Homo sapiens: one gene and its partner. The protein of the gene in region 1 interacts with the protein of each later gene in a pairwise test. Each region holds a gene or a part of one and is shown on either strand. Other genes may lie near its edges.

What was found.
Region 2: the proteins of MYDGF (region 1) and ACOT13 interact in binary tests that used the Homo sapiens proteins (3 or more experiments, as listed by UniProt).

What each region holds. Positions count from the first base shown.
Region 1 is NC_000019.10:4,656,981-4,669,518, reverse strand, and holds the end of MYDGF (myeloid-derived growth factor precursor), read left to right. Parts: intron 1-873; coding exon 874-924; intron 925-4,581; coding exon 4,582-4,643; intron 4,644-7,440; coding exon of another isoform or gene 7,441-7,798; exon of another isoform or gene 7,799-7,813; intron 7,814-8,768; coding exon 8,769-8,850; intron 8,851-9,515; coding exon 9,516-9,588; intron 9,589-11,434; coding exon 11,435-11,514; 3' UTR 11,515-11,974; downstream 11,975-12,538. UniProt on the Homo sapiens protein: Bone marrow-derived monocyte and paracrine-acting protein that promotes cardiac myocyte survival and adaptive angiogenesis for cardiac protection and/or repair after myocardial infarction (MI).
Region 2 is NC_000006.12:24,667,681-24,680,218, reverse strand, and holds part of ACOT13 (acyl-coenzyme A thioesterase 13), read right to left. Parts: intron 11,103-12,538; exon of another isoform or gene 10,281-11,102; intron 9,571-10,280; exon of another isoform or gene 1-9,570. UniProt on the Homo sapiens protein: Catalyzes the hydrolysis of acyl-CoAs into free fatty acids and coenzyme A (CoASH), regulating their respective intracellular levels. Has acyl-CoA thioesterase activity towards medium (C12) and long-chain (C18) fatty acyl-CoA substrates.

The DNA of each region.
Region 1 (12,538 bases):
AGCCTCCCCAGTACCTGGGATTACAGACGTGTGCCACCACACCCGGATAATTGTTGTTGTTGTTGTTTGAGATGGAGCCTCACTCTGTCGCCCAGGCTGGAGTGCAGTGGCGCGATCTTGGCTCACTGCAACCTCTGCCTCCCAGGTTCATGCCATTCTCCTGCCGCAGCCTCCCAAGTAGCTGGGACTACTAATCTTTGTATTTTTAGTACAGATGGGATTTCACCATGTTAGCCAGGCTGGTCTTGAACTCCTGACCGCAGGTGACCCGCCCACCTCGGCCTCCCAAAGTGATGGGATTACAGGCGTGAGCCACTGTGCCAGGCCAGTTTGTTGACTACTTCCTTATAGTTAGGTGTGATGCCAAGTCCTTTATATGTTAGGCCCAAGTTACAGATGAGAAAATGCTTCACATAAAAAAGAGAAACAGAGAGAAACTAGAGGCTCAGAAAAGTTTTCACTTGTCCAGGTCCCATGGCAAAACCCATCTCTACAAAAATACGAAAAATTAGCCAGGTGTGGTAGCAGGTGCCTGTAATCCCAAGTACTCAGGAGGCTGAGGCAGGAGAATCGTTTGAACCCGGGAGGCAGAAGTTGCAGTGAGCTGAGATCATCCCACTTCAGCCTGGGCGACAGAACAAGACTCTGCTTCAAAAAAAAAAAAAAAAATTAGTCGGGTGTGGTGGTTGCGTACCTATTGTCTCAGTTACTTGAGAGGCTGAGGCAAGAGGATTACTCAAACCTGGGAGTTCGAGGCTGCAGTGAGCTGTCATTGTGCCCCTGCACTCCAGCTTGGGTGACAGCAAGACCCCGTCTCTTAAACAAAATAAAAATTTCCTTCTACCAAACCTTTTTTTTCCTTCCATTCTCTAGGACAAATATACGTGTATGTTCACTTACGCCTCTCAAGGAGGGACCAATGAGGTGAGTTGTTCAAAATTCCCTCTAGCTTACTGTGACAGTATCCATTGTTGTAGGGAGATGTTCTGTAGCAGACAGCAGGGTTGGGTCTCACCTATATCACCTTACACTCATTGAATGACTCTTCCTAAACCAATAAAAAGGGAGAGTATTGGCATTAAACAGTGACGACAGATTCTGCTGTTATTATTCTACAGAGCAAGCAAATGTCTGGACAGAAGGAGGGAGGGGAGATGGGAGTCTGCCATCCCCATGAGCATCTGTTGGGATGTTGTATTTTATGTGCAGTGCAACAAGTTATCACAGCTTAGGGGCTTAAAACAGCACCCATTTATTATCTCATAGCTTTGTAGGTCAGAAGTCTGGGTCAGCTCAGTTGTGTGCTTCATAAAACCAAACTCAAGGTATTTTGGGAGGCTGAGGCGGGCAGATCACCTGAGGTCAAAGTTCGAGACCAGCCTGGCCAACATGGCAAAACCTCATCTCTACTAAAAATACAAAAATTAGCTGGGCATGGTGGCACATGCCTGTAGTCCCAGCTACTCAGGAGGCTGAGGCAGGAGAATCACTTGAACCCAGGAGACGGAGGTTGCAGTGAGCCAAGATTGTGCCACTGCACTCCAGCCTGGGCAACAGAGCGAGACTCTGTCTCAAAAAATAAATAATAAATAAATAAAGGTATCACAGGCAAGGCATGGTGGCTCATGCCCCATCTCTACAGAAAATAAAAAAATTAGCCCAGCGTGGTGGCGTGCACCTGTGGTTCCAGCTACTTGGGAGACTGAGGTGGGAGGATCGCTTGAGCCCAGGAGGTCAAGGCTGTAGTGAGCCGTGATTGTGCTACTGGGCAACAGAGCAAGACCCTGTCTCAAAAAAAAAAAAAGTCTCTGGGCTGGGAGAAGAATCCTCTCCTTCAAGCTCTTAGTTGGCAGAATTCAGTTACTTGTGGTTCAGGGACCAAGGTCCCGGTTTCCTTGCTGGCTGTTGTCTCCAGCTGGTGGCAGAAGAGCCAGTAAAGATGATTTGGGCCAGGCACAGTGGCTCATGCCTATAATCCCAGCACTTTGGGAGGCCAAGGCTGGCGAATCACCTGAAGTCAGGAGCTCCAGACCAGCCTGGCCAACATGGTGAAACCCCGTCTCTACTAAAACTACAAAAATTAGCCGGGCGAGCCAGGCGCACTGGCTCATGCCTGTAATCCCAGCACTTTGGGAGGCCGAGGCGGGTGGATCACAAGGTCAGGAGATCGAGACCATCCTGGCTAACACGGTGAAACCCCGTCTCTACTAAAAATACAAAAAATTAGCCGGGTGTTTTGGTGGGCACCTGTAGTCCCAGCTACTGGGGAGGCTGAGGCAGGAGAATGGCGTGAACCCGGGAGGCGGAGCTTGCAGCGAGCCAAGATCGCGCCACTGCACTCCATCCTGGGCGACAGAGCGAGACTCTGTCTCAAAAAAAAAAAAAAAAAAAAAAAAAGGGTGATTTGAAGCACATGGACACATACGCCACTGCTGCCCTTGAGGGAACTGCAGGGCAGGGAATACACGCGGCCTCTAGGAGCTGAGAACAGCCTCTGGCTGGCAGCAAGGAAATGAAGACTTCAGTCCCGCAACCAAGAGGAACTGAAATCTGCCACAACCACAAGAGCTTGGAAGAGGACCTTGAGCTACCAGTAAGAGCCTAGCCCGGTCAACACCTTGAGATGGGTTTCGCCATGTTGGCCAGGCTGATCTTGAACTGCTGACCTCAAATGATCAGCCTGCCTCGGCCTCCCAAAGTGCTGGGATTACAGGTGTGAGCCACCGGTGCCCGGCCTCCTAGAGATTTTTCTGTATCCTATGTAAAGCGCTTCAGTTGCATGGACGTGTGGAGTTGACAATCCCGTACTAATGGATTGAGGGTTACTTCCAACCCAGTCCGTGAATAACCTTGGCCAGGGTTCATTGTACAAGTGCAGTTACATCTGTGGGAAAACCACCCAGAAGTGGGATTCATGGGTCCATTTTCTTAAAAGTAAAACTGGGCTGGGCGCGGTGGCTCACGCCTGTAATCCCAGCACTTTGAGAGGCCAAGGCAGGTGGATCGCCTGAGGTTGGGAGTTTGAGACCAGCCTTGCTAAGATGGTGAAACCCCATCTCTACTGAAAATACAAAAGTTAGCAGGGCGTGGTGGCACGCGCCTGTAATCCCAGCTACTCAGGAGGCTGAGGCAGGAGAATCGCTTGAACCCACGAGGCAGAGGTTGCAGTGAGCTGAGATCGCACCACTGCACTCCAGCCTGGGTGACAGAGCGAGACTCCATCTCAAAAAAAAAAAAAAAAGTAAAACTGTATGTTTTGAGATCATGGTAGATTTACATTCACTTGTAAGAAATCCTACAGAGAGATCCAAGTACCGTTTAACCAGGTTCCCCGGTGGTAACATCGTGCAAGAGGCCAGTCATTTTAGAGATGGGGTCTCGCTATGTTGCCCAGGCTGGTCTCGAACTCTTGGGTTCAAGTGATCATCCCACGTTGGCCTCCCAAAGTGCTGGGATTACAGGCATGAGCCACCATGCCCAGCCTGCATTTTCCATTTTGCTTGTACCTGTTGCAGCTCCACCGACAACCTGGAATAGTCTTGGTTTTCACACCCATATGGTGTGTTAGCAGACAGGAGGGCTTTTGCCCTTCTGACCTGGGAGAAAAAGGTATCTCACGATAGTTCAGCTTGTGTTTATTTATTTTTCATAAATGATATGGGACATCTTTTTTTTTTTTTTTTTTTTTTTTTTTTTTTGAGACAGAGTCTCGCTCTGTCGCCCAGGCTGGAGTGCAGTGGCGCGATCTCAGCTCACTGCAAGCTCCGCCTCCCGGGTACACGCCATTCTCCTGCCTTAGCCTCCCGAGTAGCTGGGACTACAGGCGCCCACCACTGCGCTCGGCTAATTTTTTGTATTTTTAGTAGAGATGGGGTTTCATCATGTTAGCCAGGATGGTCTTGATCTCCTGACCTCGTGATCTGCCTGCCTCGGCCTCCCAAAGTGCTGGGATTACAGGCGTGAGCCACCGCGCCCGGCCTGGACATCTATTTATATGTTTAAGAGTTGTTCTTAGGCCTGGCATGGTGGCTTATATCTGTAATCTCAGCACTTTGGGAGGCCAAGGTGGGAGGATTGCTTGAGGCCAGGAGGTTGAGACCAGCCTGGGCAATATGGCAAGACAGTGATTCTACAAAACACAAAAATTAGCTGGGTGTGGTCCCAGCTACTTGGGAGGCTGAGGTGGGAGGATCGCTTGAGCCCAGGAGGTAGAGGTTGCAGTGAGGCGAGATCGTGCCACTGCACGCCAGCCCAGGCCACAGAGAGAGACTCCATCTCAAAAACAAACAAACAAACAAACAAACAGCGTTGTTCCTATTTCCCCATCCGTGGGAGCCACTTTGGGGTAGTTCTCATTAGAGGCACCACTTTTATGGGAAGGATGTGGTGCAGGCAGGCTCCCTGATCACAGATGACAGCAAACCCCAGGCCACCAGGAGGGCGGGGCAGGGGATTTAGTGGCCAGCCCCTGAATCGGGAGGTACAGAAGAGGTGGCCTGACTGTAGAATCAGAGGCACACCTAGAAGTCTCCGAGAGCAGCTGTGTGTCCGGGGCTGACCCGCGCTGTCTTCTCTCCCCAGCAATGGCAGATGAGTCTGGGGACCAGCGAAGACCACCAGCACTTCACCTGCACCATCTGGAGGTGAGACTCGGGGTGGGGATGGCATTTCCGGCTGCCGTTGGCCTGCCCTGTGGCCTCAGGAGCTGCTTTGGAAGGCAGGGAACGAGGGCTGCACCCCTGGAGGGGAAGACAGACCAGCAGGGAGACTCATGCACGTGCAGGTGGGGGGTGGCAGGGTCGCTGGGGTGGGAGTGCTCCCCAAGGAAGTGCACTGATGCAGAGACTGAGAAGGTCTGGGGGAGACGGGGGGAGCCTGTGCGGGGCAAGGTCCCAGGAAAAGGAGAAGCAGCTCAGAGGGTGCGGAGCGTGGACCAGGGCCCAGGAAGGCCCCAAGGGGCTCCACCCTCCCCTAAGGGTGAGACGAACTCACCAAAGGGCTTTTTGGCAATTTTTTTTTTTTTTTTTTTGAGATGGAGTCTCCATCTTTTGCCCGGGCTGTAGTGCAGTGGAGCAATCTTGGCTCACTGCAGCCTCCGCCTCCTGGGTTCAAGCGATTCTCCTCCCTCAGCCTCCTGAGTAGCTGGGATTACAGGCGTGTGCCACCATGCCTGACCCTTTTTGGCAATGTTTAAAAACTGAGATAAAATTCCATAAAGCACAGCATTTTAAGCTCACAATTCAGCTGCATGGAGTACTTTCTCAGAGGTGTGCAGCCAGACCTCTGCTTCCAGAACATTTTCATCCCCTGAAAATAAACTCTGTTCCCATCAGAGTCATTCTCCTTCCCAGCACATGGCAGCCACGCATCCCCCTCCTGTCTCTGTGGATGGGCGTGTCCTGGACATTGCATAGAAATGGGGTCAAACCTTCCCTGTGTGGCCTTTGGTGTCTGGCGTCTCTCACTGAACGTGACGTCCTCAAGGCTCATCCATGCTGAGGCCCGTGTCAGCCTCATTTCTTTTCCTGGCTGAGTCCTATTCCAGAGGGCTCCCTGCAGGAACATGTGGAGCTCAGATCCCCCCGGCTGAAGGAGGCAGGCTGAGGCAGGGAGCCCCTCCAGGCACCAACCAGGATGGAGTCGGGGGTTGGGGGTGGGGCGCAGATTGAAGCCTGTGCAGAATGAGGATGGGGTGGGTGGAGAGGGCACAGATTGGAGGCTGTGTAGAATGAGGATGGGGTGGGTGGGGAGGGTAGATTGGAGGCTTTGTAGAATGAGGATGGGGTGGGTGGGGAGAGCACAGATTGGAGACTGTGTAGAATGAGGACAGGGTGGGTGGGGAGGGTATACTGGAGGCTGTAGAATGAGGATGAGGTGGGGAGGGTAGATTGGAGGCTGTAGAATGAGGATGGGGTGGGTGGGGAGGGTAGATTGGAGGCTGTGTAGAATGAGGGTGGGGTGGGTGGGGAGGATAGATTGGAGGCTGTGTAGAATGAGGATGGGGTGGGTGGAGAGTGCACAGGTTGGAGGCTGTAGAATGAGGATGGGGTGGGGAGGGTAGATTGGAGGCTGTGTAGAATGAGGATGGGGTGGGTGGAGAGGGCACAGATTGGAGGCTGTGTAGAATGAGGATGGGGTAGGTGGGGAGAGTAGATTGGATGCTGTAGAATGAGGATGGGGTGGATGGGAGCGTAGATTGGAGGCTGTGTAGAATGAGGATGGGATGGGTGGAGAGGGCACAGATTGGAGGCTGTAGAATGAGGATGGGGTGGGTGGGGAGGGTAGATTGGAGGCTGTGTAGAATGAGGACAGGACGGGTGGGGAGGGTAGATTGGAGGCTGTGTAGAATGAGGACAGGACGGGTGGGGAGGGTAGATTGGAGGCTGTAGAATGAGGATGAGGTGGGTGGGGAATGTAGATCGGAGGCTGTAGAATGAGGATGGAGTGGGGTGGGGAGAGTAGATTGGAGGCTGTAGAATGAGGACGGAGTGGGAGGGGAAGGCACAGACTGGAGGCTGTGTAAAATGAGGACAGGGAGGAGGGGAGGGCACAGATTGGAGGCTGTGGAATCAGCTAGCTGGGGTAGGAGGAGGAGGAAGGTGCTGGGCAGAGTCCTGGTGGAACTGGCGGAGCTGGTGCAGGTCTGGGCTGGGGACGAGCTAGGCAGGTGGCAGGTGTGGGAGTCTGTGGGGTAGTGGCTGTGGAGGTTTGGATGATGCTATCTCCCGGGGAATGTGTCCCACCAGAAGGGGCCCCAGCTGTTTCCCCTCAGGCAGGTCTTTACCAGCATGTTCTCTGAAGGACCAGCCTGATGGCTCATAGCCTTCTTGGGGTGCAGACATCTGGGAATCAGACAAAAGCTGTGCACTCTCTTCCACCTGCCCGAACACACATGCATCTGGGTCCACAGCCCCTCCCCAAGTCTCCCCAGACACCGCCCGATTCTGCCCCTGCCGCCATCCTCTGTCAGGCTCATGGTTTATGGGCTTATCCCGGCTCCACTCGCCCCACTCATTCTCGTAACCCCACTGCCTAGATCCCAGCTCGATCTGGGCAAGGTCATGAAGGGAAGGAAGCCGTCAGGCCCCCCGGTGGGGAGGGGGTCGGGGGCTTCAGGAATCTTGTCCCTTCTTCCCTGATCCTTGGCCCAGAATGTCTCAGCCCAAACAGTGGGTATTTCTTGAGCCTTTATTTTGTGCAGACACTTTGGAGGGAGAAGTCCAAGCTATAGCTCCACCACTGCGGTCAGGTTAAAGCACGTTGACAAATGGGAGGCAGAGATCAGGGAGTGGCGACGTTTAACTGAAGGACAGGGTGTGATTTGCTGCCTCGTGTGGGTGTTGTCCCGCCGTGCCCTGCGGGGCGCTTTACAAACAGCAGGTGTTTCTGGGGAGATTCTCACCCACTCCATGGAACTGGCTGCATCACAGGCAGGCCAAGGCCCCAGGAGGCATCAGGAGGGTCATTGAGAGGAGATAGGCCCCATCAGCCCAGAGAGACCCTGCAGAGGCCGCCCTGTAGTCTTGGGGAAGCCCACGGTCGCCATCGTCTGTCTGCAGGCCACTGCCCTGCATGGACCCCTGAGTGCCAGCTCCCCAGAGGGCATCTGGGCAGGTGCAGGTCTGGAGCAGTTGGGATGGTGGCTGGGCTCACCTTGAGCCTGAATCCTCCTGTCCAACCCCCACAAAAGCTCCCCAGGGGCATGCTCAGCCCCGGAGACCTGCCACCCCAGGCCTCCTCATCTCAGACAGTGACTGGACCCTCCCTGACCAGGGCTGTTGGCAGTGCTAGGGCTTAAAGAAGAATCTAGGGCTCCCTGGATACCCCCGCCCCACCCATGCACATAGAACCCCAGCCAGGGCTTCCACAGAAATGGCCCCCCTGCTGCCCCTCCATCCCCATCACACTCTCTTCACACCAGAGATGCCATCATCCCCTGCTGTCACCTTCCGACACCTTCTGCCACTCCAGTTCCTTAGAAGCCTCCGTTAGCAGCCTTCTAGAGACCTGGGCAGATGATCCTCCCCACTTCTTAAGTTAACTCCTGTACTTCCTAGTCAATGCCCTCTGAGAAGCCTTTACTGGCCTCTCATTGCCCAGCCCCAGCCCCCGTCGTAGTACCTGGATTGCTGTCAGCAACCAAGAAGCCATGTGCAGTGAATGGACATGGGGTCCTGTCCCAGAGCAGCTCCCAGCCCACAGGGGAGAGAGGCGTGTCTATGAATGAGCTGGAAGAACATTCTGGCACAAAGGGGCCAGGCACAGTGGCTCACACCTCTAATCACAGCCCTCTGGGAGGCTGAGGCGAGTGGATCACTTGAGGTCAGGGGTTCAGGCCAGGCTGGCCAACATGGTGAAACCATGTTTTTACTAAAAATACCAAAATTAGTCAGATGTGGTCGCGGGTGCCTGTACTCCCAGCTACAAGGGAGGCTAAGGCAGGAGAATCACTTAAACCCAGGAGGCAGAGGCTGCAGTGAGTGAGATTGTGCCATTGCCATCCAGCCTGGGCAACAGAGTGAGACTCGTCTCCAAAAAAAAAAAAAAAAAAAAATTCTGGCACAAAAGAAAGAGGGTCTGCTGTTGAGAGGGCCCCATCCATCCTTCCCAGTCAGCAGGTGCTCGTGCTCGGGAATGGCGTCCATGTTGAGAAGCAGGCACGAGACCTGCTGACCCCAGCCCGAGTCCCTGGCGGGGCTCCTTCCAGGGCACACAGACCCAGACCCAGCAGGCCTGGCCTGACTCCCTCGCCCCCTCTTCCTCTGCAGGCCCCAGGGGAAGTCCTATCTGTACTTCACACAGTTCAAGGCAGAGGTGCGGGGCGCTGAGATTGAGTACGCCATGGCCTACGTGAGTATCTTGGAGTGGGGCAGGCTCCGGGTGTGGCTTCTGTGCACTGGGGCAGCTGTGAGATGTCCTGCCACAAGAGGGCTCCATGGGGACAGGGAGGAGAGGGGACAGCGAATCCTGCAGAGGTAGGGTGTGTAACTTGCAGGAACCTGGCACACAGACGCCCCCAGGCCAGGGGCACGGGGGTTTGGTAACCTGTTGCTGCTGGCTTCTCTTGTATATGCCAGAAAAGACTTCTCCAGGCCAGGCGCGGCGGTTCACGCCAGTAATCCCAGCAATTTGGGAGGCTGAGGCAGGAGGATTGCTGGAGGCCAGGAATTTGATTCCAGCCTAGGCAACATAGCAAGACCCTATATCTACCAAAAGTAAAAAAAAAATAGCCAGGCGTGTTGGCATGCACCCATAGTCCCACCTACTCAGGAGGCCGCAGCAGGAGGATCACTTGAGTCCAGGACTTTGAAGCTGCAGTGAGCTATGATTGCACTGCTGCATTCCAGCCTGGACAGTAGAGTGAGGTCCTGGCTCAAAAACAAAAAAGTCTCCTCTCCATCTCTAGTAAAAGTAGAAAGCTTTAGTCTGTGCTTCTCTGGAAAGCAAACTCAATCGTTTTCCTAATGATGAGCATTGAACTGGCCCTGGTAAAGTTTCCACTCATTCTTTTTCAGTCTAAAGCCGCATTTGAAAGGGAAAGTGATGTCCCTCTGAAAACTGAGGAATTTGAAGTGACCAAAACAGCAGGTACGGAAAGATGGGGATGGGGTAGAGGTGACGCCACCCCCATCCAAGGGTGGGCAATCGGGGCAGTTTGGAGAGGGGGGTCAGCCATAGGGGTCCTGGAGACTGTAGACCAGGCATCCACAAACTGATTCTATAAAGGCCACCTCGTCAATATCTTCAGCTTTGTGGCACTGTGGGTTCTGTCTAGAGCTGTGCCATTGTGGCACAAAGCTGCTGCAGACAGTATGTCCATGCGTGGGTGTGGCTGTGTGCCACTAGAACTTTATCTTAGCTGGGCGCGGTGGCTCATGCCTGTTACCGCAGCTGCTCAGGAGGCTAAGGTGGGAGGATCATTGGAGCCCAGGAGGTCAAGACCAGCCTGGGCAACATAGCGAGACCCTGTCTCTACAAAATTTTTTTAAAAATCAGGCTGGGTGCGGTGGCTCACGCCTGTAATCCCAGCACTTTGGGAGGACGAGGCGGGCGGAACACTTGAGGTCAGGAGTTCCAGACCAGCTGGCCAACATAATGAAACCCCATCTCTACTAAAAATGCAAAAAATTAGCCAGGCGTGGTGGTGCGCACCTGTAATCCCAGCTATTCAGGAGAATTGCTGGAACCTGGGAGGTGGAGGTTGCAGTGAGCTGAGATCATGCCACTGCACTCTAGCCTGGAAGACAGCAAGATTCTGTCTCAAAAAGAAAAAAAATTAGCCGGGCATGGTGGTGTGTACCTGTAGTCTCAGCTACTTAGGAGGCTGAGGTGGGAGGATTATTTGAGCCCAGGAGGTCGAGGCTGCATTGAGCTATGATCGCACCACTGCACTCCAGCCTGGGCATCAGAGTAAGACTCTGTCTCAAAAACAATAAACAGGGCTGGGCATGGTGGCTCACACCTGTAATCCCAGCACTTTGGGAGGCCAGGAGTTCCAGACCAGCCTAGCCAACATGGTGAAACCCCTTCTCTACTAAAAATACCAAAATTAGCCAAGGATGGTGGCACATGCTTGTAATCCCAGCTACTCAGGAGGCAGAGACAGGAGAATCTCTTGAACTTAGGAGCAGGAGGTTGCAGTGAGTCGAGACTGCACCACTGCACTCCAGCCTAGGCAACAGAGGAAGACTCTCATCTCAAAAAAAATAATAAATTTTAAAAAATAAATAAATGAAATAAAACAAAGTAGAAACCATCAGGGCTTTGAGGTTGGGACTGTGGCATGCCGAGGGGAGGCTGCAGGGGTCACTGGGAAACATCAGGGTCCTTCTTCGGTTGCCTGAGCAGCACCGGTGTCCTCAAGCCACATTCAGCTGCATGGCGCCAATGCTAAGCAGAAAGAGGAATCGGAGGCGCCGAGCTGGGGCAAGGGTGGGAGCCAAGGGAGTGGACACAGCAGGTAGGGCCGGGAGACTTGGGTGAAGCAGTGGAAGCCAGAGTTCTGACCCTGCTGGAGAAGTGTCATGAGGGCCTCAGACAGGTTCACCCACTGAGCAGGAGGTCTTGCAGCCTGACCCACCCTGCATCCTGTTCAGGCCGGGATCATCTCCTTCCTGGGCTTCTTCTGGCCCCTTTCTGCATCTCTTCTTGACAACATGGCACAAATGACCAGGGTTCTTCCCACCTCAGGTCTTTCTGTGGCTTCCTGCTGCCTGCCATCTATGTTAGCCCCACCGACCTTACCCTCCACATCACTGTTTTCCTGTCTGTCACCCGTAAGACTTTCAGTGCCTGGGGCCTTTTCACATGGGAGTCTGCTTTGGAGACTGCTCCCCTTGCCTGCTTAGCCCCCACCATGGGCCCCACCCCAAATCCTCCGGACTTCTGAGAATTTTCAATGTTGAGGGCCCAACCATGTGTTTCTTTCTTGCAGTGGCTCACAGGCCCGGGGCATTCAAAGCTGAGCTGTCCAAGCTGGTGATTGTGGCCAAGGCATCGCGCACTGAGCTGTGACCAGCAGCCCTGTTGCGGGTGGCACCTTCTCATCTCCGGTGAAGCTGAAGGGGCCTGTGTCCCTGAAAGGGCCAGCACATCACTGGTTTTCTAGGAGGGACTCTTAAGTTTTCTACCTGGGCTGACGTTGCCTTGTCCGGAGGGGCTTGCAGGGTGGCTGAAGCCCTGGGGCAGAGAACAGAGGGTCCAGGGCCCTCCTGGCTCCCAACAGCTTCTCAGTTCCCACTTCCTGCTGAGCTCTTCTGGACTCAGGATCGCAGATCCGGGGCACAAAGAGGGTGGGGAACATGGGGGCTATGCTGGGGAAAGCAGCCATGCTCCCCCCGACCTCCAGCCGAGCATCCTTCATGAGCCTGCAGAACTGCTTTCCTATGTTTACCCAGGGGACCTCCTTTCAGATGAACTGGGAAGAGATGAAATGTTTTTTCATATTTAAATAAATAAGAACATTAAAAAGCAACCCCACAGCCTGGGCCCTCCCGGCTGGCCGTTGCGGGTCAGGAGCTCAGACGCGGCTGACACTGCCCCACCGTGGGCGGGTGGGCGGTGTCTCTGGGTGGGACTTCTCTGCAGGCATCAAAGCGCTAGATCCCAAGGTGGCTGTATGTGAACTTGCCCCCTTCCCCCCTTGGCACTCGCTGTCCCTGGGTCCCCCACATGTTGTGAATTCACACCCGGGTTTCTGTGGCTGCCACAGGCCCCAGCGCGGGAGGATGTTCCAAGGCCGACCTGCTCTCTGCAGCCTGGGGCATTGGTTTCCCTTAGTTTGTTTTTCTTTTGAGACAGGGTCTTCTCCTGTCACCCAGGCTGAAGTGTAGTGGTGTAACACGGCTCACTGCAACCTCCACCTCCTGGGCTCAAGCGATCTTGCCACCTCAGCCTTCCAAGTAGCTGGGACTACAGGCACACGCCACCATGCCCGGCTAATTTTTGCATCTTCTTTTGATAGAGACAGCGTTTTGCCATGTTGCTCAGGCTGGTTTCGAACTGAGCTCAAGCAATCCACCTGTCTCGGCCTCCCAAA
Region 2 (12,538 bases), on another chromosome or scaffold:
CTTCTGTAGAAAGGAGGGCAAATGGAGTGAAGTGCCATATGTGCAAACTTCCTTTTCATTAAGAGACAACTCGCAATTATGTAAAAAGTGTGGTTTATGCCCTACAGGAAGCCCTCAGAGTCTGCCTCCCTATCTCAGCATCCCCCCGACTCCTTCTGCAACTAATAAGGGACCCCCCTTTTACCCAAAGGTCCAAAGAAGATAGACAAAGGGATAAACAATGAACCAAACAGTGCCAATATTCCCCGATTATGCCCCCTCCAAGCAATGTGAGGAGCAGAATTCGGCCCAGCCAGAGTGCATGTACCTTTTTCTCTCTCAGACTTAAAGCAAATTAAAATAGACCTAGGTAAATTCTCAGATAACCCTGATGGCTATACTGAAGTTTTATAAGGGTTAGGACAATCTTTTGATCTGATGTGGAGAGATATAATGTTACTGCTAAATCAGACACTAACCCCAAATGAGAGAAGTGTCGCCATAACTGCAGCCCGAAGAGTTTGGTGATCTCTGGTATCTCAGTCAGGTCAATGATAGGATGACAACAGAGGAAAGAGAACAATTCCCCACAGGCCAGCAGGCAGTTCCCAGTGTAGACCCTCATTGGGACACAGAATCAGAACATGGAAATTGGTGCCGCAGACATTTGCTAACTTGTGTGCTAGGACTAAGGAAAACTAGGAAGAAGCCTATGAATTATGCAATGATGTCCACTATAACACAGGGAAAGGAAGAAAATCCTACTGCCTTTCTGGTGAGACTAAGGGAGGCATTGAGGAAGCATACCTCTCTGTCACCTGACTCTATTGAAGGCCAACTAATCTTAAAGGATAAGTTTATCACTCAGTCAACTGCAGACATTAGAAAAAAACTTCAAAAGTCCGCCTTAGGCCCAGAGCAAAACTTAGACCCTATTGAACTTGGCAACCTCGGTTTTTTATAATACAGATCAGGAGAAGCAGGCGGAATGGGACAAACGGGATAAAAAAAAAGGCCACTGCTTTAGTCATGGCCCTCAGGCAAGCGGACTTTGGAGTCTCTGGAAAAGGGAAAAGCTGGGCAAATCGAATGCCTAATATGGCTTGCTTCCAGTGTGGTCTACAAGGACACTTTAAAAAAGATTGTCCAAGTAGAAGTAAGCTGCCCCCTCGTCCATGCCCCTTATGTCAAGGGAATCACTGGAAGGCCCATTGCCCCAGGGGACGAAGGTCCTCTGAGTCAGAAGCCACTAACCAGATGATCCAGCAGCAGGACTGAGGGTGCCCGGGGCAAGCACCAGCCCATGCCATCACCCTCACAGGGCCCCGGGTATGCTTGAACATTGAAGGCCAGGAGGTTAACTGTCTCCTGGACACTGGCATGGCCTTCTCAGTCTTACTCTCCTGTCCCAGACAACTGTCCTCCAGATCTGTCACTATCCGAGGGGTCCTAGGACAGCCACTAAGTTGTGACTGGGGAACTTTACTCTTTTCACATGCTTTTCTAATTATGCCTGAAAGCCCCACTCCCTTGTTAGGGGGAGACATTCTAGCAAAAGCAGGGGCCATTATATATCTGAACATAGGAGAAGGAACACCTGTTTGTTTTCCCCTGCTTGAGGAAGGAATTAATCCTGACGTCTGGGCAACAGAAGGACAATATGGATGAGCAAAGAATGCCTGTCCTATTCAAGTTAAATTAAAGGATTCTACCTCCTTTCCCTACCAAAGGCAGTACCCTTAGACCTGAGGCCCAACAAGGACTCCAAAAGATTGTTAAGGACTTAAAAGCCCAAGGCCTAGTAAAACCATGCAATAGCCCCTGCAATACTCCAGTTTTAGGAGTACAGAAACCTAATGGACAGTGGAGGTTAGTGCAAGATCTCAGGATTATCAATGAGGCTGTTCTTCCTCTATACCCTGCTATACCTAACCCTTGTACTCTGCTTTCCCAAAAACCACAGAAAGCAGAGTGGTTTACAGTCCTGGACCTTAAGGATGCCTTTTTCTGCATCCCTGTACACCCTGACTCTCAATTCTTGTTTGCCTTTGAAGATCCTTTGAACCCAATGTCTCAACTCACCTGGACTGTTTTACCCCAAGGGTTCAAGCATAGCGCCCATCTATTTGGCCAGGCATTAGCCCAAGACTTGAGCCAATTCTCATACCTGGACACTCTTGTCCTTCAGTACGGGGATGATTTAATTTTAGCCACCCGATCAGAAACCTGGTGCCATCAAGCCACCCAAGCACTCTTAAATTTCCTTGCTACCTGTGGCTACAAGGTTTCCAAACAAAATGCTCAGCTCTGCTCACAGCAGGTTAAAAACTTAGGGCTAAAATTATCCAAAGGCACAAGGGCCCTCAGTGAGGAACGTATCCAGCCTATACTGGCTTATCCTCATCCCAAAACCCTAAAGCAACTAAGAGGGTTCCTTGGCATAACAAGCTTCTGCCGAATATGGATTCCCAGGTACAGCGAAATAGTCAGGCCATTATACACACTAAGGAAACTCAGAAAGCCAATACCCATTTAGTAAGATGGACACCTGAAGCAGAAGTGGCTTTTCAGGCCCTAAAGAAGGCCCTAACCCAAGCCCCAGTGGTAAGCTTGCCAATGGGGCAAGACTTTTCTTTATATGTCGCAAAAGAAACAGGAATAGCTCTAGGAGTCCTTATACAGGTCCGAGGGACCAGCTTGCAACCTGTGGCATACCTGAGTAAGGAAATTGATGTACTGGCAAAGGGTTGGCCTCATTGTTTACGGGTAGTGGCAACAGTAGCAGTCTTAGTATCTGAAGCAGTTAAAGTAATACAGGGAAGAGATCTTACTGTGTGAACATCTCATGATGTGAATGGCATACTCACTGCTAAAGGAGACTTGTGGCTGTCAGACAACCGTTTACTTAAATATCAGGCTCTATTACTTGATGGGCCAGTGGTGTGACTGCGCACTTGTGCAACTCTTAACACAGCCACATTTCTTCCAGACAATGAAGAAAAGATAGAACATAAATGCCAACATGTGATTGCTCAAACCTAATGCTGCTCAAGGGGACCTTTTAGGGGTTCCCTTGACTGATCCCAACCTCAACTTGTATACTGATGGAAGTTCCTTTGCAGAAAAAGGACTTTGAAAAGCGGGGTATGCAGTGGTCAGTGATAATGGAATACTTGAAACTAATCCCCTCACTCCAGGAACTAGTGCTCAGCATGCAGAACTAATAGCCCTCACTCGGGCACTAGAATTAGGAGAAGGGAAAAGGGTAAATATATATACAGACTCTAAGTACGCTTACCTAGTCCTCCATGCCCATGCAGCAATATGGAGAGAGGGGAATTCCTAACTTCCGAGGGAACACCTATCAAACATCAGGAAGCCATTAGGAGATTACTATTGGCTGTACAGAAACCTAAAGAGGTGGCAGTCTTACACTGCCAGAGTCACCAGAAAGGAAAGGGAAACAGAAAGGAACTGCCAAGCGGATATTGAAGCCAAAAGAGCGGCAAGGCAGGACCCTCTATTAGAAATGCTTATAGAAGGACCCCCAGTCCTTCTATAATTGTCCCTGTTTGTAGATGACATGATTGTATATTTAGAAAACCCCATCATCTCAGCCCAAAATCTCCTTAAGCGGATAAGCAACTTCAGCAAAGTCTCAGGATACAAAATCAATGTGCAAAAATCACAAGCATTCCTATACACCAATAACAGACAAACAGCCAAATCATGAGTGAACTCCCATTCACAATTGCTTCAAAGAGAATAAAATACCTAGGAATCCAACTTACAAGGGATGTGAAGGACCTCTTCAAGGAGAACTACAAACCACTGCTCAACGAAATAAAAGAGGACACAAACAAATGGAAGAACATTCCATGCTCATGGATAGGAAGAATCAATATCGTGAAAATGGCCATACTGCCCAAGGTAATTTATAGATTCAATGCCATCCCCATCAAGCTACCAATGACTTTCTTCACAGAATTGGAAAAAACTACTTTAAAGTTCATATGGAACCAAAAAAGAGCCTGCATTGCCAAGACAATCCTAAGCCAAAAGAACAAAGCTGGAGAGGCATCACGCTACCTGACTTCAAACTATACTACAAGGCTACAGTAACCAAAACAGCATGGTACTGGTACCAAAACAGAGATATAGACCAATGGAACAGAACAGAGCCCTCAGAAATAATACCACACATCTACAACCATCTCATCTTTGACAAACCTGACAAAAACAAGAAATGGGGAAAGGATTCCCTTTTAATAAATGGTGCTGGGAAAACAGGTTAGCCATATGTAGAAAGCTGAAACTGGATCCCTTCCTTACACCTTACACAAAACTTAATTCAAGATGGATTAAAGACTTAAATGTTAGGCTTAAAACCATAAAAACCCTAGAAGAAAACCTAGACAATACCATTCAGGGCATAGGCAAAGACTTCATGTCTAAAACACCAAAAGCAATGGCAACAAAAGCCAAAATTGACAAATGGGAGCTAATTAAACTAAAGAGCTTCTGCACAGCAAAAGAAACTACCATTAGAGTGAACAGGCAACCTACAGGATGGGAGAAAATTTTTACAATCTACCCAACTGACAAAGGGCTAATATCCAGAATCTACAAAGAACTTAAACAAATTTACAAGAAAAAATCAAACAACCCCATCGAAAAGTGGGCAAAGGATATGAACAGACACTTCTCAAAATAAGACATTTATGCAGCCAACAGATACATGAAAAAATGCTCTTCATCACTGGCCATCAGAGAAATGCAAATCAAAACCACAATGAGATACCATCTCACACCAGTTAGAATGGTGATCATTAAAAAGTCAGGAAACAACAGGTGCTGGACAGGATGTGGAGAAATAGGAACACTTTTACACTGTTGGTGGGACTGTAAACTAGTTCAACCATTGTAGAAGACACTGGCAATTCCTCAAGGATCTACACCTAGAAATACCATTTGACCCAGCCATCCCATTACTGGGTATATACCCAAAGGATTATAAATCATGCTGCTGTAAAGACACATGCACATGTATGTTTACTGCAGCACTATTCACCATAGCAAAGACTTGGAACCAACACAAATGTCCATGAATGATAGACTGGAATAAGAAAATGTGGCACATATATACCATGGAATACTATGCAGCCATAAAAAAGGATGAGTTCATGTCCTTTGTAGGGACACGGATGAAGCTGGAAACCATCATTCTCAGCAAACTATTTCAAGGAAAGAAAACCAAACACCACATGTTCTCACTCATAGATGGGAACTGAACAATGAGAACACTTGGACACAGGGTGGGGAACATCACACACCGGGGCCTGTCGTGGGGTGGGGGGAGGGGGGAGGGATAGCATTAGGAGATATACCTAATGTAAATGATGAGTTAATGGGTGCAGCACACCAACATGGCACATGTATACATATGTAACAAACCTGCACGTTGCACACATGTACCCTAGAACTTAAAGTATAATAAGAAAATAAAAAAACAGTTGAACTCTAGGGCTGGGTGCACTGACTCATGCCTGTAATCCCAGCATTTTGGGAGGCCAAGGCAGTCAGATCACTTGAGGTCAGGAGTTTGAGACTAGCTTGGCCAACATGGTGAAACCCTGTCTCTACTAAATATACAAAAAATGAAAATTAGCCAGGCGTGGTGGCAGGCGCCTGTAATCCCACCTACTCAGGAGGCTGACGCAGGAGAATAACTTGAACACAGGAAGCAGACGCTGCACTCAGCTGAAATCACGCAACTGCACTCCAGCCTGGGTGACAGAATGAGACTCTATCTCAAAAAAACAAAAAAACAAACAAAACCCCCCAAAAACGGTGAACAAGTTTTGTCTAATTCAAAGCTTATTTAGGCCAGGGGCAGCGGCTCATGCCTGCAATCCCAGCACTTTGGGAGGCCGTGGCATGCAGATCACTTGAAGTCAGTTCAAGACCAGCTTGATCAACATGGTGAAACCCTGTCCCTACTATAAATATAAAATTAGTTGGGCATTGTGGTGCACGTGTAATCCCAGCGACTCGAGAGGCTGAGGCAGGAGAATCACTTGAACCCAGGAGGTGGAGGTTGCAGTGAGCCAAGATCGGGCCATTGCCTTCCAGCCTGGGTGCCAGAGCAAGACTCTGTCTCAGATAAAAAACAAACAAACAAAAAAAACCCCACAAAACTTATTTAAAGGTTATGTATACAACAAGGTAAAGGAATCAGGAAATAAGAGAGATGTTGTAAAGGAAGTTATAAAACAAATTTTTTTTGTATGTGGTAAGAAAGCTTAGAAATAATTTTACATGAGAAAGAATACTGTATGGTAAATTTAGTCCTAAGATAAAAGTTCAAGCATGTCATGAATGGTCTGTGTATGTCACAATAAGAGGATTTGTTTTAAAAAAATTGTATATGATCATGTTTACAATTAAAAGGAAATTATAATGCTCTTTCTAGAGACTGGGCTTCATGTTAAAAAAGACACATATACACGAAATTATTGGTTAGAAAAATAAACTTTTCTTAAGGGGTTAACTTACTCTTAATAAATTATAAGAGAATTTGCCTACGAATGGTGGCTTCTGCCTGTAATCCCAGCACTTTGGGAGGCCAAGACAGGTGGATCACTTGAGGTCAGGAGTTGTAGACTAGCCCGGCCAACGTAGTGACACCTCGTCTCTAACAAAAATACAAAAATTAGCCAGGCCTGGTGGCATGTGCCTGTAGTCCCAGCTACTTGGCAGGCTGAGGCACAAGAATTGCTTGAACCCAAGAGGCAGAGGCTGCAGTGAGCCAAGATTGCACCAGTGCACTCCAAACTGGGCAACAGTGCGAGACTCTATTTCAAAAAAAAAATTATAAGAGAATTTAATTTTTTTTTAAAACTGAAAGTTCAATTTTTATTGCATCTTGCCATTTTTTTTCAGCTTTCTCTCCCCTTTAAAAAGGCACACTGTCTTAAAGGTCTAAAGGAAGTGTTTTCTTCCAACATCATGTTCTGTGCATTGCAGAAGGTCTTTTCTTTTGCTTTTTGGTAACTGACCTAACAGAGTTTACATTTTGTTGAAATAATTCCTATGTTTAGGAAAAAACTGAGATTAAAAAAAGATTTTTTAATTAACATGATTACAACTGGGTATTTTCCTGTATGTGCTTTTAAAGTCCTTGTGACCTTAGGTTACAGGGCTTTGACTCCTGGGTCTAAAAAGGACACCAAGTCCTACTAAATCTTAAACACTGACAGCAATTGAAGCTGTCATCTTCAGGCCCCGTAGAAGACGCCAATCAAAATAAACTGCATTCCTGAGATACACGGCCAGAAATTAAAGGCATTCAACTCCTCAAGGCCCAGAGACTATCGAAGAAGAGGTGGGCAGGTAAGACTGTAAGGTCCAAATTTGAAAGATAAAATAAGTTCAGTTTCTCTATAAATTAATGATTAACGTCAAAGGCACAATGATGCAAGATCAGCTTATGGGCCCCTGTAATCAGATTAACAAGGTTTTCTTGACACATTAACTGACTCCTTAATAAAGGTTATAAAGGCTTATGGAAGTTATATCTTTTGTTTTCTTTTCTTTTTTTGAGATGGAGTCTCGCCCTGTCACCCAGGCTGGAACTGCAGTGGCTCAATCTCAGCTCACTGTAACCTCCGCCTCCTGGCTTCAAGCGATTCTCCTGCCTCAGCCTCCCGAGTAGCTGGGACTACAGACGCGTGCCACCACACTCAGCTAATTTTTGTATTTTTAGTAGAGAAGGGGTTTCACCATGTTGGCCAGGATGGTCTTGATCTCCTGACCTCCTGATCTGCCCACCTCGGCCTCCCAAAGTGCTGGGATTATAGGCGTGAGCCACCACGCCCAGTTAGAAATTATATCTTATGGTCAAGTTTAAAATTTTATAGATTGTTTATAAAATTTTGAAAACAAATTTAATTAGCTTCATGCTGTTTTTATTAGGGCTTATTGTTTGGAAAGTTAAGTCCCCTCTCTCAAAGAATGAAGGTTTTCACCTTTTTATGAAATCCTTGAGTTATCACTTTGGTTAAATGAATGATTTATTTTATAATGACCTGTGATCCTATTTTTGTGATATCAGGTGTTTTAAACATTTGATATTTGACAAACTTTCCAAAATCAAATTATAAATTATGTCTTTTTCTGACCTAATTAGTCCTTTAAGATATTAGATTCCCTGAAGTCCAAAAATGGCATAATTTGGCTTATTTGGTACAAAAATTACACAGGAAGCATTGTCAAATATGCAACAGTGTTTGGCTTTCTTTGAGATGTATTTGTATAAATATGTTATTGGTATGTGTTCCAAAATTATGGGAAATTCCTGTAATTCTGATATGACCTAGTGTACATTATCAGTAATAATCATAATTGTTACGTTAAAATTATTGTGTGCTACAGAGGAGAGGTATCAAATTTCCTTGTCAATTGTGTCTTTGCCTATGGCTGCCCTAAAACTTTTAGTCATCCACGCACAATTGTTGTGTTGTTTTGGTCCTCTTTAGAAAGTGTTTTTTTTTGTTGTTGCTGTTGTTGTTTTTTGAGATTCATTATTTATTCTTGATAATGTTTTCTTTGTTAAATTTGTTTTTTTAAATTATACTTTAAGTTCTAGGGTACATGTGCACAACGTGCAGTTTTGTTACATATGTATACATGTGCCATGTTGGTTTGCTGCACCCATTAATTCGTCATTTACATTAGGTATTTCTCCTAGTGCTATCCCTCCCCCATCCCCCCACCCCACGACAGGCCCCAGTGTGTGATGTTCCCTGCCCTGTGTCCAAATGTTCTCATTGTTCAATTCCCAACTATGAGTGAGAACATGCGGTATTTGGTTTTCTGTCCTTGTGATAGTTTGCTGAGAATGATGGTTTCCAGCTTCATCCATGTCCCTACAAAGGACATGAACTCATCCTTTTTTATGGCTGCATAGTATTCCATCGTGTATATGTGTCATTTTTTCTTAATCCAGTCTATCATTGATGGACATTTGGGTTGGTTCCAAGTCTTTGCTATGGTGAATAGTGCTGCAATAAACATACATGTGCATGTGTCTTTATCGTAGCATGATTTATAATCCTTTGGGTATATACCCAGTAATGGGATGGCTGGGTCAAATGGTATTTCTAGTTCTAGATCCTTGAGGAATCACCACAGTGTCTTCCACAATGGTTGACCTAGTTTACACTCCCACCAACAGTGTAAAAACGTAACTATTCCTCCACATCCTCTCCAGCACCTGTTGTTTCCTCTTGAATGCAGGTCTCCATTAACTTTGGAGATTGTTACATGAGAATAGAGGAAAAACTTTCAGAACTCATGGAGAGCTAAAATGCTCATGAATATCAAGCAGAATAGGAATTAACTAAGGGGACTGAACTAATCTTTTTGACTTTTTGCTTAAACATTGCTGATCTTTTGCTTTGTTTTTCAGAGCCTTGAAACTTTTCTTTTGAGCTATTGACAGCTTTTAACAATTTAGTATACTCCAATCAACAAAATTTGGAGCATATTTGTTTCTCTCTACCTGATTTCTCCAGAATTTGTAAACTATTTGTGAGTATTCTTAACTTGTGCCAATACAGTTATTTGCATAAGTGCAGTAAGAATCTGTTTTCATTTGTAACAGGACACAGTTGGAGAAACTGATTATTTTACCAAGGCTTTGAGTGGAAAGGTGTACTTTCCTTTAAGTAATCAAACCTGACTTATGGAGCCAATAAAAGCCCTTGGGAAAACTGGCCTCACACTTTACAAAGTCCCTGTACAGGGTTTCTGATATGTGCTAAGTAAAGAATGTCATTTTCTGACAGGTCCAGGAGCCCCTGGTTTATCATGGAACATCAAAAAGAGGAAATTCACCCTACTCATAGGTATTTGATGGTACAAATCCATGGCTGAGCTTGGCTTTAAAAAGAATCTTATCTGAGATTCCTTCTATGGAACAAAGTTCCTTCAAAGCCAATTTTAAAAAGCCTATGTGAAAAATAATTATTCTTGCTACACTTTATATAAATAATCTGGTCAAATATAATAAAGCAAATCAGTCCTACCATGATTTGTCTTTAGTAAAAATGGAAAACTGGAGAGAGAAAAATTGTTTCAAAACTTACAGTCCACTTGTTGTTAGATACTAGTCTTGCCTAATTTTTTCAATTTTTATTATTTTCTACAGTTTAGGCTGAATTCTAATTTTTCCTGGCTACAAGTCTCCAAAATAATATTTTTAATTTTTTTCTTTTCTTTTCCTTTTTTTTCCTAATTAGGAGTCACTGAAAACAGCTGTGCTTTTGTAAAGCCCTGCAAACTGAAGCTAGACAACTTAAACTTCAGAAGAAAATAACAGCAACCTATTTACACGCATAAGCCACTTTCATACCTGCCTACTGATGTATGGACTTCAGAATAACGTGGCCTATGTATATTTTCCAGGATTGTTCTTTTGTTTGTTGTTTTTCACCCTTCCTCCCCCTATTTTCTCTTCACAAGACATGGGAGTTCACAGCCTTCTAAAAATTAGCTTTCCTAATAACTTGGGACTTACCTGTCTAGGAATAAACCATCCTAGCATGAGCGATCAGATGAAATCTGGGACCAAAGACTCATTTTTCTTCTAAAATGCTTTCTCCAAAAAAAAATTTTTTTTAAAAAAAAGAAAAGGGGGCAAATGTAAAGGAAAATATCTTGGGCCCCCAAATCACTAAGTTAAAAGGAAAATTCAAGCTAGGAACTACTTAAGACAAACTTGCCTCCCATTCTATTCAAAGTCATCCCTCTGCTCATTGAGATAAATGTGTATCTGACTGCCTCCTTAGGAAAGGTAAATCAGAAACTCAAAAGAATGCAACCATTTGTCTCCCACCTACCCGTGACCTGGAAGCCCCCTTCCCGCTTCAAGTTGTCCCGCCTTTCCGAACCCAACCAGTGTTCATTTTACATATATTGATTGATGTCTTATATGTCCCTAAAACGCATAAAACCAAGCTGTGCTCTGACCACCTTGGGCACATGTTGTCAGGACCTCCTGAGGCTGTGTCACTGCGTGCGCATCCTCAACCTTGGCAAAATAAACTTTCTAAATTAACTGATACCTGTCTCAAATTTTTGGGGTTCACAAGGTTTAGTTATAAATGCTTCTTATGGAGCATGATTTTCTTACAAGCGAGGCAGGAGAATCGGATCTGGAGGCAGGGAACCTAGGGCTGTTTCACGCTGACTTCCTAGAACTAAATTGAAAGTAAAACCCTAACTTCCCACACCAAGTAACAAAAGAACCAGAGGCTTCTCCCTTTCCAAACCCCCACCTTTTCTGTGTGGCAGATGGGAAATTGAAAGTACCTCTGATTGGTTGCAAAAAGCAAAATTACGCTAAGAAGTAAGTTATCCCTTAAAAAAAATTATTCTTTCTGCAACCAATCAGATCTTCCCATAGGAGTGTAACTATGTAACTTCACCATCTGATTGCACGCCACGTCTTCGTTTGCATATAAGGGCAACTTTGTAACTTCACTTTAGCCTTTCATTGGTTGCTTTTCACAGCCAATTGTGGGTCACCACTTCATTTACATGAGATGAGTACCAAGTGGCCAATAGGAGACTTCAATGGGGTATTAGGGCCCCTGAGCTGCTGCTCCACACCCCAAACACAGGAGTGTCCTTTCATTTTCAGTAAATCCCTGCTTTTGGCGGGGCATGGTGGCTCATGCCTGTAATCCCAGCACTTCGGGAGGCCAAGGCAGGTGGATCACCTGAGGTCAGCAGTTTGAGACCAGCCTGACCAACATGATGAAACCCTGTCTCTAATAAAAATAAAGAATTAGCCAGGCTTGGTGGCGCATGCCTGTAATCATCCCAGCTACTTGGAAGGCTGAGGCATGAGAATCACTTGAACCCAGGAGGCGGAGGTTGCAGTGAGCCGAGATCGTGTCACTGCACTCCCGCATGGGCAACAGAGCAAGACTCCATCTCAAAACAACAACAACAACAAACACCTTCAAGGTCTGGCGTGGCGGCTCACACCAGTAATCCCAGCACTTTGGGAGGCGGAGGCAGGCGTTTCACCTGAGGTCGGGAGTTCGAGAGCAGCCTGACCAACATGGAGAAACCCTGTCTCTACTAAAAGTACAATATTAGCTGGGCATGGTGGCGCATGCCTGTAATCCCAGCCACTCGGGAGGCTGAGTGAGGCAGGAGAATTGTTTGAACCAGGGAGGTGGAGGTTGCAGTGAGCCGAGATCGCGCCATTGCACTCCAGCCTAGGCAACAAGGGCGAAACCTCATCCTAAAAAAACAAAAACAAACAAACACCTTCGGGCTTTGTGAGTGCTGGTCTCAGAAAAGCACTCAGTCTTCCTCCAAGGGCTAACTTACTTCTTCAGGAGTTGGGTGCCTTTGAGAAATTTCCCAAACCACTACAGAGGAACAACTTCTCCCTTCGTTCACCACTCTACCAAGCACTTGGCTTTTGTACCTTATTGCAATTATTTATCTTCTAATCTTCTAGAGCCTAGAGAATTAGACTGTA